Linked DNA regions of Homo sapiens: region 2 is reported to be linked to region 1. Evidence: microRNA targets listed by miRTarBase, many of them from high-throughput screens and not tested one by one. Region 1 holds a microRNA gene; the other region holds the end of a gene's coding sequence.
Evidence for each region. The annotated mature microRNA hsa-miR-4999-5p reads UGCUGUAUUGUCAGGUAGUGA and lies in region 1 at 2,645-2,665, opposite strand. An mRNA with a match to its seed (bases 2 to 7 or 8) in the 3' UTR can be bound and repressed. Matches are read on the target gene's strand: a 7mer-m8 pairs with bases 2 to 8, a 7mer-A1 pairs with bases 2 to 7 and ends in A, and an 8mer does both.

Region 1 (5,384 bases):
ACTCTGTAAAGTGGACCAATCAGCTCTCTGTAAAATGGACCAATCAGCAGGATGTAGGTGGGGCCAAATAAGGGAATAAAAGCAGGACACCGCAGCCAGCAGCGGCAACGTGCTTGGGTCCCCTTCCATGCTGTGGAAACTTTGTTCTTTCACTCTTCCCAGTAAATCCTGCTGCTGCTCACTCTTTGGGTGCGCACTGCCTTTATGAGCTGTAACACTCACCGCAAAGGTCTGCAGTTTCACTCCTGAAGTCAGCGAGACCAAAAGCCCACCAGAAGCAAGAAACTCTAGACATGTCTGAATATCAGAAGGAACAAACTCTGGACACACCATCTTTCAGAACCGTAACACTCACCGGAGGGTCTGTGGCTTCATTCTTGGAGTCAGCAAGACCAAGAACCCACCAATCTGGACACAGGATGTGTTATACAAAACTTATAGGAGGCTATTACTTTGGACTGACTTCCTACACCAGGCCCAACAAACTAAACCAAAATGGAGTCACTCATGCTAAAGTTTTACGTGATCAAAAAGAAACTAAGTTGTTTATCTGACCTTCTACAAAATCAGGAGAGAGAGAGATGGGATAGCCAAGTCTCCCACCAGGTCAGTTTTAGCCATCATGATAAGGATGTCCTCTCTGCTTTAACCTTTACAAGAAAAGTAACTTTGGGCTGAGTGCGGTGGTGGCTCATGCCTGTAATCCCAGCACTTTGGGAGGCCAAGGCAGGAGGATTGCTTGAGTTCAGGAGTTCAAATCCAGCCTGGCCAACAAGGCAAGACCCTGTCTCTGGAAAAAAAAAATTAGCTGGGCATGGTGGCACACACCTGTGATCCTAGCTCCTCAGGAGGCTGAGGTGGGAAGATTGCTTGATCCCAGGAAGTTGAGGTTGCAGTGAGCTATGATCGCACCACTGCACTCCAGCCTGGGTGACAGAGCAAGACTCAGACTCCAAAAGGAAACTTTAAAATGACCAATCCAAGTTTTCTTTTCTTTTTTTCTTTTTTTTTGAGTCGGAGTTTTGCTCTGCTCTCCCAGGCTGGAGTGCAATGGTGTGATCTTCGCTCACTGCAACCTCCGCCTCCCTGGTTCAAGTGATTCTCCTGCCTCAACCTCCTGAGTAGCTGGGATTACAGGCACCTGCCACCGCGCCCGGCTAATATTTTTGTATTGTTAGTAGAGATAGGGTTTCATCATCATTATCATGTTGGTCAAGCTGGTCTCGAACTCCTGACCTCGGGTGATCTGCCTGCCTCGGCCTCCAAAGTGCTGGGATTACAGGCATGAGCCACTGCACCTGACCTCCACGTTTTATTTTCTGTTTGTGCTTTACTTGGCCCTTTTTCTGCCTGTAAAACCAACCTACCTGCTCAGCTCATGGGAAAATTAGTTTCATTTTGTGAAATGAAGTGTTGCCCGATTGTAGAATTGCAAATAAAATCAATTAAGATCTTTAAACTAAATGTGTTGTAATTTTGTTTTTTTGACAGATGCCCAATGAACACCCTGGGAATGAGATCCAAGAGGCGATAATGGCATCTGCTCTAATAACTAGTACATTGACTCTAGGCTTAGATTATTCACCACTGAATAAATAAACGTATTTATTCAGCAGTGGGGAACTTACAGCAATGATGGGGACAGATACAGTCCCTGATGTCATCAGGCTGATATGCTGCTGACAGAGGACAAAAAACAAACAGATCAATGGGTCAGGAAAGCAAGGCTTTTTTTTTTTTGAGACAGGGTCTTGCTCTGTTACCCAAGCTGGAGTGCAGTGGGGTGATCATGGCTCACTGCAGCCTCGATTTCCCAGGCTCGAATGATCCTCCCGCCTTGGCCTCCCAAGTATCTGGGACCCTGGCATGATGCACCACATCTGGCTAATTTTTGTTGTTGTTCTTTTCTTTTTTTTCCTTTTCTCTTTTTTTTCCTTTTTTTCTTTTTTTTTTTTTTTTTTTGAGAGACTGGGTTTTGACATGTTGCCTAGGCTGGTCTCTAGCTCCTGGCCTCAAGTGATCCTCCCACCTCAGCCTCCTCAAAGGGCATGTTTTTAGGCATAAGCCACCGCAGCCAGCCAAAACAAACAAACAAAAAGTAACGTATACTTTGTGTTAATAATTTTGCATAGTATATTGAAAATTTGCCAAGAAAGTACATTTTAGATACTCTCACTACACACACAGTTAATTATGGAAGGCAATGGATAGGTTAATTGCTTAACTCTCATAATTGGCCATGTGTGGTGAAAATGCCTGTAATCCCAGCACTTTGGGAGGCCAAGGTGGGCGAATCACCTGAGGTCAGGAGTTCGAGATCAGCCTGACCAACATGGAGAAACCCCGTCTCTACTAAAAATACAAAAAAATTAGCCAAGCATGGTGGTGCATGCCTGTAATCCCAGCTATTCGGGAGGCTGAGGCATGAGAATCGCTTGAACCCGGGAGGCAGAGGCTGCAGTGAGCCGAGAGCACACCATTGCACTTCAGCCTGGGCAACGACAGCAAAACTCCGTCTCAAAAAAAAAAAAAAAAACTGTCATAATTATTATTTCACTGGGTACATGTGTATCAAAACACACGCTGTACACCCTAAATATATAAAACAAACACATACTGTATTGTCAGGTAGTGATAAATCCTATCACTACCTGACAATACAGCAGTATGTGTTTTATTTTCTATATTACCTATTTTTATATTTTACCTATGTGGCAAAATATAGGACAAAAGAGGGGTAGTGGTAGGAGGTCCTGTTGGAGAGCATTGGTATCCAGTAAGGATTTAAAAGTATTTATTTAACAAAGAATAGCAGAAAGTGGACGGTTGATTCACACTTGGTGCAATCTCGGCTCACTGCAACCTCCACCTCCCAGGTTCAAGCGATTCTCCTGCCTCAACCTCCTGAGTAGCTGGGTTTACAGGCACCAGCGACCACGCCCGACTAATTTTTGTATTTTTAGTAGAAACGGGGTTTCACCATGTTGGTCAGGCTGGTCTCGAACTCCTGACCTCGTGATCCGCCAGCCTCGGCCTCCCAAAGTCCTGGAATTACAGGCGTGAGCCACCGCGCCTGGCTGATCTGGTTATTTTCAAAAGATTCCATGAGACGGGTTTCTTCAGTTTACAGAGGAGGAAACTGAGGCACAGAAGGATAACCCAGTGAGTCCCAATATAGAGATGGAGACTGCAACCGAGAAAGGGGACCCAGCGCTGAGGTCCCCGGAAATGGTCATTTATGGGCTTGGGGGGCGACCAGGGCAGCGCGCGCTGACCTATGACGTCATCGGGACGTTAAGCATCGTAGCATTACCTGGACGTAGCCCCATTTCTCTTCCCGGACAGGTCCTCTGATAGTCGGGTAGGTTCTCAATCAAGCCTCTCATTAGTTATTTGGTCTGTCAATCCATTTCATTCCTGCAGTCTTCCGCCCCGCCCTCTTGAGCTCGCCCCTGATAGGCTGGCGCGTCCGTCACTTCAAAAAGGTCCGCATTCCTTCCGCCTTTCTCCAGGACACCGAGGGCGAGGAGGGTGGTACCAAGCGGCGCCCACCCTCAGAGCACTACTTCCATCTCTGATTGGCTTCGCTGGGTGCCCGTCGCTACTCCACTCGCCGCTGATAGGCCATTCAACCGCCGCTCTGCGCGGCGCCGGCTCCGCCCCCGTCGGGTGTTTGTGGTGGGGCTGCGGAGTCGCCGATCCCGCCGGAAGCGCCAGGACAATGGGGACCCGGGACGACGAGTACGACTACCTATTCAAAGGTGCGGCCGGTGGGGCACAGACGGGCGAAGTCGTGGCGGCGAGGCGGCGGGCAGACGGGCCAAGGCCGCGCTCCAGGCCGCTGGGCCCAGGCCGGAGCCCGGGGCTTGGGGCCCGGCGGGTCAGGCAGCCGGGAAGGCCGGAGCCGACCGGGCAGCATCAGCTTCGGGCTAGGATGCGCGGCTATACGGAGCCGGAGGCCCGGAGAGACCTGGGGGACCTAGGACGCGCCGGGGCGGGGCCAGAGCCTAGAGGGGGTGGGGCCCGGAGCGGTGGGAGAGGCTGTTAGGGCGGGGCCTCCGCAGGGGGTGGAGCTTTCCCAAGATTTGGCGGGCCGGGCTGGGCTGAAAGCGTGATTCGGGATGGGGGCGGGGTTTTTAGGGGCGGGGCTAAGGCGTGATGGGCGTGACCAATAGGTGGGTTGGGCCTGGGCAAACGGAGGCGGGGCTCTCACGAGGCTTGTCCTGATTGGGGCAGCGTGTTTGGGGGTGGGGCCCGGGAGAGGCGGGGCAGGCAATGGGGGCTGGGCCGAGATGAGGGCCTGGGGGTGAGGTGTGTGGTGGTGGGAGCCTTGGATTGGGGTGCAAAGCTGGGATTGAGTGGAAAGGCACCCGTGTGTGCAGCAAGAATTCCATCTCTTCACTCAGAACTCTCAACAGTGCTAAGCCAGTACTTGCACTTTTCTGAGCACTTTACCCGAATTAACTAAAATCCTCACTGCAGCCCTTTGAGGTTGATACTAACCAGCCTCTCTTTTTACACGTTGGGAAACTGAGGCCCAGAGTGACAAAGACACAGTTTATAAGTGTTGGAACCCGATTGAGCCCAGGCCACCTGTAGGCCTTACCACTTAGGAAGCGTGTCTTAGGGGGCTTGTGGCCAGCATCTGGGACTTTGGGTTGTTGGACCAACTTCTTCCAACACGTGCGCACTGATGGCCGGGGCCCCAGCCAGCCTGCTGGAGGGTCTTCCCCGCCCGAGGGACTGAGGGGGCTCTAGGAGCATCACATAAGGCCTAGGTAGATCAGGCAGCCATTGCCCATTTAGGGACAGCTGGAGGAAGCCGGAGTCCCTTGTTTCTCAGCTGAGCCTTCTGTGCCCAGCTACACTTTGGCCTAGTGGTCTGCCCTGGTTGCTGGGCTCCCTGGCTGACAATGGCAGCCCTTGAGGGCTAACCCCTGGATCCAAGGTGCCTTCACCCTGCGGCCTGCTCTATGAGGGCCTGCGTCGCACATCAGCTGTTGGTATCCTCACCTCGCTGAGCCGTTCCTCCGAGTGTGCTCTGTGGCTTGCACCAGGCCTAGCTGGGCCTTGTGTCTGGTCTCATCCAGCGTCTTCTGATTGTGGGGAATGAGGCAGAGGTCTCCCCACCTGGGCTGTCCGTGTGGCGAAAGCCTTCCGGGGGGAGGGAGAGGAAGTGCCTCTACAAGGGCCTAGAGTCGTCCTGTGGCACTGAGGGCTCTGGCAGCTGCACACAGGTTGATAATGTCACTGGTGGGTGAGGCTCTGTGGTCAGCAGGTGCCCGGCCCAAGGTCTCGCCCCTCGTGGCAGGAGGAAGCTTTGGAAGGGTTTTGGAGACTGGGATTCTAAGGGGCCGTCTGGAGACAGGGGGACTAAACTTTGG
Region 2 (5,384 bases), not on the chromosome of region 1:
TCTTTCAGGATGTTGCTGGAGCACTGTCAGTAGAAGAAATCACTGAACTACTCAGTCTCCATAAATTATGCTGTGGCCGTAGCTGGTATATTCAGGGCTGTGATGCTCGAAGTGGTATGGGACTGTATGAAGGGTTGGACTGGCTCTCACGGCAACTTGTAGCTGCTGGAGTATTGGATGTTGCTTGATTTTAAAGGCAGCAGTTGTTTGAAGTTTTGTGGTTAAAAGTAACTTTGCACATAGTATGTTTTAAGAAATTATACATCTCAAAAGATGGTAATTTAGGATGCATATATATATATATATATATAAAGGAATCTTGGATTGGGAATTCAGTACTTTGCTTTAAAAAAATTTTGTGGCAGAATTAAATTTCTAATTGAGCAGATTAGATTGAATTAAATAGAAACTTATTGAATATACATTCTTTTAAAAAGTATATTTGTTATTTAAGTTTTTCAGATAATATGTGACCAATATACTGGGAAAGAGGTAGTCACAGAGAAAGGGTAAGTGAAGGTTTATTCTTTCAGTGAAAAAAGAATAGCCAATTGAGTGCCTAATGAGACCTCTGTGTGAAGCAAGTGAAGTATAGCTGCTTCTTTTAACCTGCCTTTTCACTGAATGTTGGCAGCATTTAGTAGTAGAAATGACAGTTGCTTAATGAAATAGAATCCAAACTACATATTTGGATAATAGGATTACTTTATGTTTATGTTCAGAGTTAACAGAACACCTTTAATGCTAAGAACTATAAGGTACAGAAAATTAATACTTTATATAGTGTTTTATTAACTTTCTCCTACAGCATTTTGTATAAAACACAATGAGGGAGTGAAATGTTACCCAATTAGGCTTGTCAGGTTAGTAATAAACTGAACAGTAATAAAACTGTGGAAGTAATTGGATCTGAATTTATGAAAGACCCATTTCCAGGACTGAACCTAGGTCAGAGCTCTAAATTGGTCCTTCTATTTTTCAACAAATTTAAAGTAATATTTCTTTCTAATATAATATTGCATCCTTTGTGGGAATGACTATAGGTAAAATGTAGTAAGTAACGCAGAACCAGGGTTGGCTTTATTTAAAAGCTAGTGACCTAAATAGAAAGCGAACTTCAAGAGAAGTTGTAAGTACAGTGGCAAATGCTTATTACTTACTTCAAACTGTTTCCCAAAATAAGTGCATTTATTTTGACAATAAAACTTAAGGCTGTTCATGAGAAGGCCTTGAAAAGTTACTCTAGAGGAAAAATGTCTAAAGAAAAAAAAAATTCAAAAAGTTTACATTAATTATTCAGTGTTGTGAGTAAATAAAAATGTGTGCTCTTTACTGTTTTTCATTTTTAAAGAATATTATTATGGAAGCACGATTTATTTAAATAGGTACATTGAGACTTTTTTTTTTTTAATGTTCTGATACATTAGGATGAAGTTAAATCTTAAATCTTATTAGTTGAATTGTTGTAAGGACAGTGATGTCTGGTAACAAGATGTGACTTTTTGGTAGCACTGTTGTGGTTCATTCTTTTCAAATCTATTTTTGTTTAAAAACAATACAAGTTTTAGAAAACAAAGCATTAAAAAAAAAGCCTATCAGTATTATGGGCAATATGTAAATAAATAAATGTAATATTTCATCCTTTATTTTTCAGGTAAAAGGTCATGCTGTTACAGGTGTAGTTTGTGTGCATAAATAATACTTCCGAATTAAATTATTTAATATTTGACTGATTTCAATAACTGTGAAAAATAAAAAAGGTGTTGTATTGCTTGTGAGAACTTGAACTGTTTACTAGTTAATTGAAGAAAAAGTGTAACACTAAGGTGAACTTGCTTCCCTTTTCACTAATTTTGCTAAACTTTGTAATGCACATTCTTAGCATATAACTGAACACAGTTGAAAAATTGTGCCTGATTATAATGTATGTATAATGGTAGGTGTTTGTGTGTGATTCATTTTTAAAGAAATATTTTTCTCAAGCTCCTATTACTATTTGTGGTTGTATTATTTCACTAATCATTAGTTAAGACTGTGCTAGTCTTCCCTGGGAAACTAAGAAGAGAGCTTTTTTATATACAGTATATTAGAATTTTCCTAGTAGCTGAATTTCTGTATTAGGTCTAAATATTACTGTATGTTATATAAAGCAGGTATGTCAAGTGTATAGCCGTAGTCTATAATTCAGGAATGCTTTATAACCATCAGAAGCCATTATTTGCACTACATATATGATAAGTATAGACAGCAATAAAATGTTAAGATCATTTTTAAGAAGTCCCATCATTATTCTTGAAAGTCTCTTTCTTGAACCATCTACCTAATATTATTGCTAGTTGTAACCAATTTAAGAAGTCATTATTTGTGCTGTGGTTAGGAGAGAAAATAAAACAAAATGGGTATGGGTTGGCATGCCTGTCAAATTTGAGATGTAGTTTATTTGATACAGCAAAATTTTAGAAATAACGTTTTGAATTTGCAACATAGGCCACATTTACTGATGAGAACAGATACTAAACTTGATCTTAACTACACCTGATCTTAGCCAAAAGGCCGAGAAGTAATGTGCAGGCCACATTTAAATAAGTAATATAACCATAGTGTTTTGAAGGCGGAGCTAAAGTTTTACATTGAACGAAGTGAAACTTTGTTACTGCCTTTTAAATTTTAAATGTAAACTTGTTTCATAAGAAAACATAGTATTTTAAATGACCATTTTAGAAAATGGCTTGCAAAACTTAGTGGTAGCTCATGAACTAATACTGCTAAGAGAAAGGCTTTTTATGTAACACTGGGATACTTCTCAATTGGCAAAGTGCTAACAAAGAAGAAGACAGCTGTATTCTTCCCTAAAAGAATAAAGGATGAAAAGGACTAATGAATAAGGATGAAATTATATCCTGATAACTTAAAACATGCTTTTAAAAAGACATGGGCAATGTATGTTTTTAGGTCTGCCGATTAAGTTTTTGATATTAATCGAAAAATTCATTAGTCAAATATGGTTTTCACTCAAAGCAAAATAATTGTATTTGTTGGGGAATGAGGCATCATCACCACTTGGTGGCAATATTACCAAAAATTTAGATTAAATTTTTAGGAATGAATAAAGCTAGGTAGGTAAGACTAAACAACTAAAATTAGAAACAGTAAATGTCACATTGAAAAGTCATTTTCATGTCTAACTTTAAGTTCTACTTTTAAAAAGGAGCATACATTACAGGAGCACAATCTGGCATAATCTCCTATCTATCTCACAACTTTGTAGCACGAAATAAATAAAGAATCCTGCTGATCAATAGAAGGAAAAGTTTAAGCCGATTTAAAACTTAAGAATATAAATTCCCTACACAGGTCTGTTGAGAATGTTCTTCCTGTAAGTTTCTGAAAGAAAGAGTCTTTCTTTCTGGAAACGAAGCAGTGAGTCTTAATAGTTATGAAGTTAGTTATAAGTGTAAGTGAAGAAGATCAATATAAGAATTTGTGCTCATATTGTTTTACTGCTCCAATTTCTACTAATCTCTCCATTGTTAGATACCAAAATTTTTATGTATACTTCTTAATGGTATATTTTCTAAAGATATACTATAACTTGAGGACAGAAAAAATTGTTTACCTATGTTAGAAAAATAATCTGAAAATCAACCTGCATATAATAAACTAAGGACTCAGGTATTCACTTATTCTGAATCTTTCATTTGAAAGAATATTTCATAATTATTAAGGAATATAACACTTTGACCAAAGTAACTTCCTGTTTATTGAGGCTTTACTCACCACTACTTACTAAACAGTTATCAAAAGACTAAAATATTTGGCATTGAAACCTTGTAAAACAAAGGAAATGACATATAATATCATATCCTAGTATTTTTTTCTTATAGGAGGGATCTGCACTCTTCTAAACATAAGGGCGGAATATCTGGCAGGTATTCAAAATTAAAGCACAGTTGTGTACCACTGTCATTATTTAATAGAGTTGTCATCGCACGGGATACCTTCTAAGACCTCCAGTGGATGCCTGAAACTTCAGATGATACTAAACCCCATATATATTGTGTTTTCATATATATATATCTATGATAAAGTTTAATTTATAAATTAGGCACAGTAAGAGATTAACAACAATAAAATAGAACAACTATAGCAGTATACTGTAATAAAAGTTAGTGAATGTGGTCTTGCTGTCTGAAAATATCTCACTGTATTGTACTCACCTATTTTTGGATCATGGTTGACAGTAGAAAGAAAACCATGGGAAAGGGGGTGGAGGAGAGTACTGTAATTATTTAATATTTAATTTGAGGCTGATTAGAAATTACCTATAATGAGTGCTATTTGCCTGAGTTTAGTCCATTTCAATTTATCACCTCCCAGGATTAGAAATATTGCGAGAAAAGTCAAAGGTAATTTTTAAAAAATAGCCTTTAATAAAAAATACAAAAATACTGTATCTTTGAAACATGATCTGTATATTCAGCAAGTCCTAAGCTTCCTAATGTAAAATAATCTGTTTAATATTGTATTTTTATTTGCAAGTACATTAAAACAAATCTTATTTTACTTGACAGTAATATTTATGATGCTGACATCCTCATAGGGCTTATCTGTTTTGGGATTGACTTTGACGTTGGAGATCCTCTGTACAACTTCCATTCCTTTAGTCACTCGTCCAAATACTGTATGCTTATTATCAAGCCAAGGCTGTGTTGGAGGACAAATGGAAAATCTTGGTAAACCCCAATTTCTTTAAATTATATCCTCTGGTTGAGCAAATTAAAGAGAATTTAAGTTTACGCTCCCCTTTAGCATATATTTAAAAAGAAGTACAATAATTTCTCAGCAATAAAAATGTAGCAGCTTTTAAAAGTTATTTCCAGTGTGTTAAAAAAAATAGAAGCATAGTATAATGTTTAATTAAATATCTGCATCTTTCAGACCAAAGGGAACTGGAAGATCTTCCCTAAAGGTAAGTTACTTCACATGGCTTACAGAATTGTGGCTAAGGCTTTAAAAGGTCTCTGGAGGACTCTTACCTGAACAGTTTATTCAGAGGCAGTTTGAAATAGTTTATGCAGCACATACTTTGGCATTAGACAGGTGGGAGTTCAAATGCTAGCTTGGCTACTTGACCTTTTGGCAAGTTAATCATGTCTCACTGTTTCTTCATCTATTATTGAAAACTGGGGATACTGATAGTAGAAGTACTGTGAATACTACATAAAACTATGTGCCTGGCAGATGGTAGTTACATTTTTCCCTTCTTCATCACTTAGTGCTTAATTCCAAAACAAAAACTAGGTAATTTTTATAATTTTGTGTTATGGCATAGCAATAGAGCTAGGTTACCTTATACTGTATTTCATCAAATCTAATGTATTCTG

Region 2: the mRNA of PPWD1 is a reported target of hsa-miR-4999-5p. The part of its 3' UTR that is shown has no 7-base or 8-base seed match.

Annotation. Positions count from the first base shown.
Region 1 is chr19:8,386,696-8,392,079 of GRCh38, forward strand. MIR4999 (microRNA 4999) reads right to left here and starts at 2,685; the gene lies at 2,595-2,685. It overlaps RAB11B (RAB11B, member RAS oncogene family), which reads left to right and starts at 3,665. Exons shown (of 5, transcript NM_004218.4): 1 at 3,665-3,761. The coding sequence starts at 3,722. It overlaps RAB11B-AS1 (RAB11B antisense RNA 1), which reads right to left and starts at 3,996. Exons shown (of 3, transcript NR_038237.1): 1 at 3,314-3,996. LOC124904632 (a long non-coding RNA gene) reads left to right here. Exons shown (of 2, transcript XR_007067128.1): 2 at 1-1,464. RefSeq lists silencers at 3,297-3,578, 3,798-4,057 and an enhancer at 3,328-3,527.
Region 2 is chr5:65,586,573-65,591,956 of GRCh38, reverse strand. It overlaps PPWD1 (peptidylprolyl isomerase domain and WD repeat containing 1), which reads right to left. Exons shown (of 11, transcript NM_015342.4): 11 at 4,408-4,704. The coding sequence ends at 4,561. It overlaps TRIM23 (tripartite motif containing 23), which reads left to right. Exons shown (of 11, transcript NM_001656.4): 11 at 9-2,267. The coding sequence ends at 188. Among named protein-coding and RNA genes, the nearest start is that of PPWD1, 26 kb to the right of the region's middle.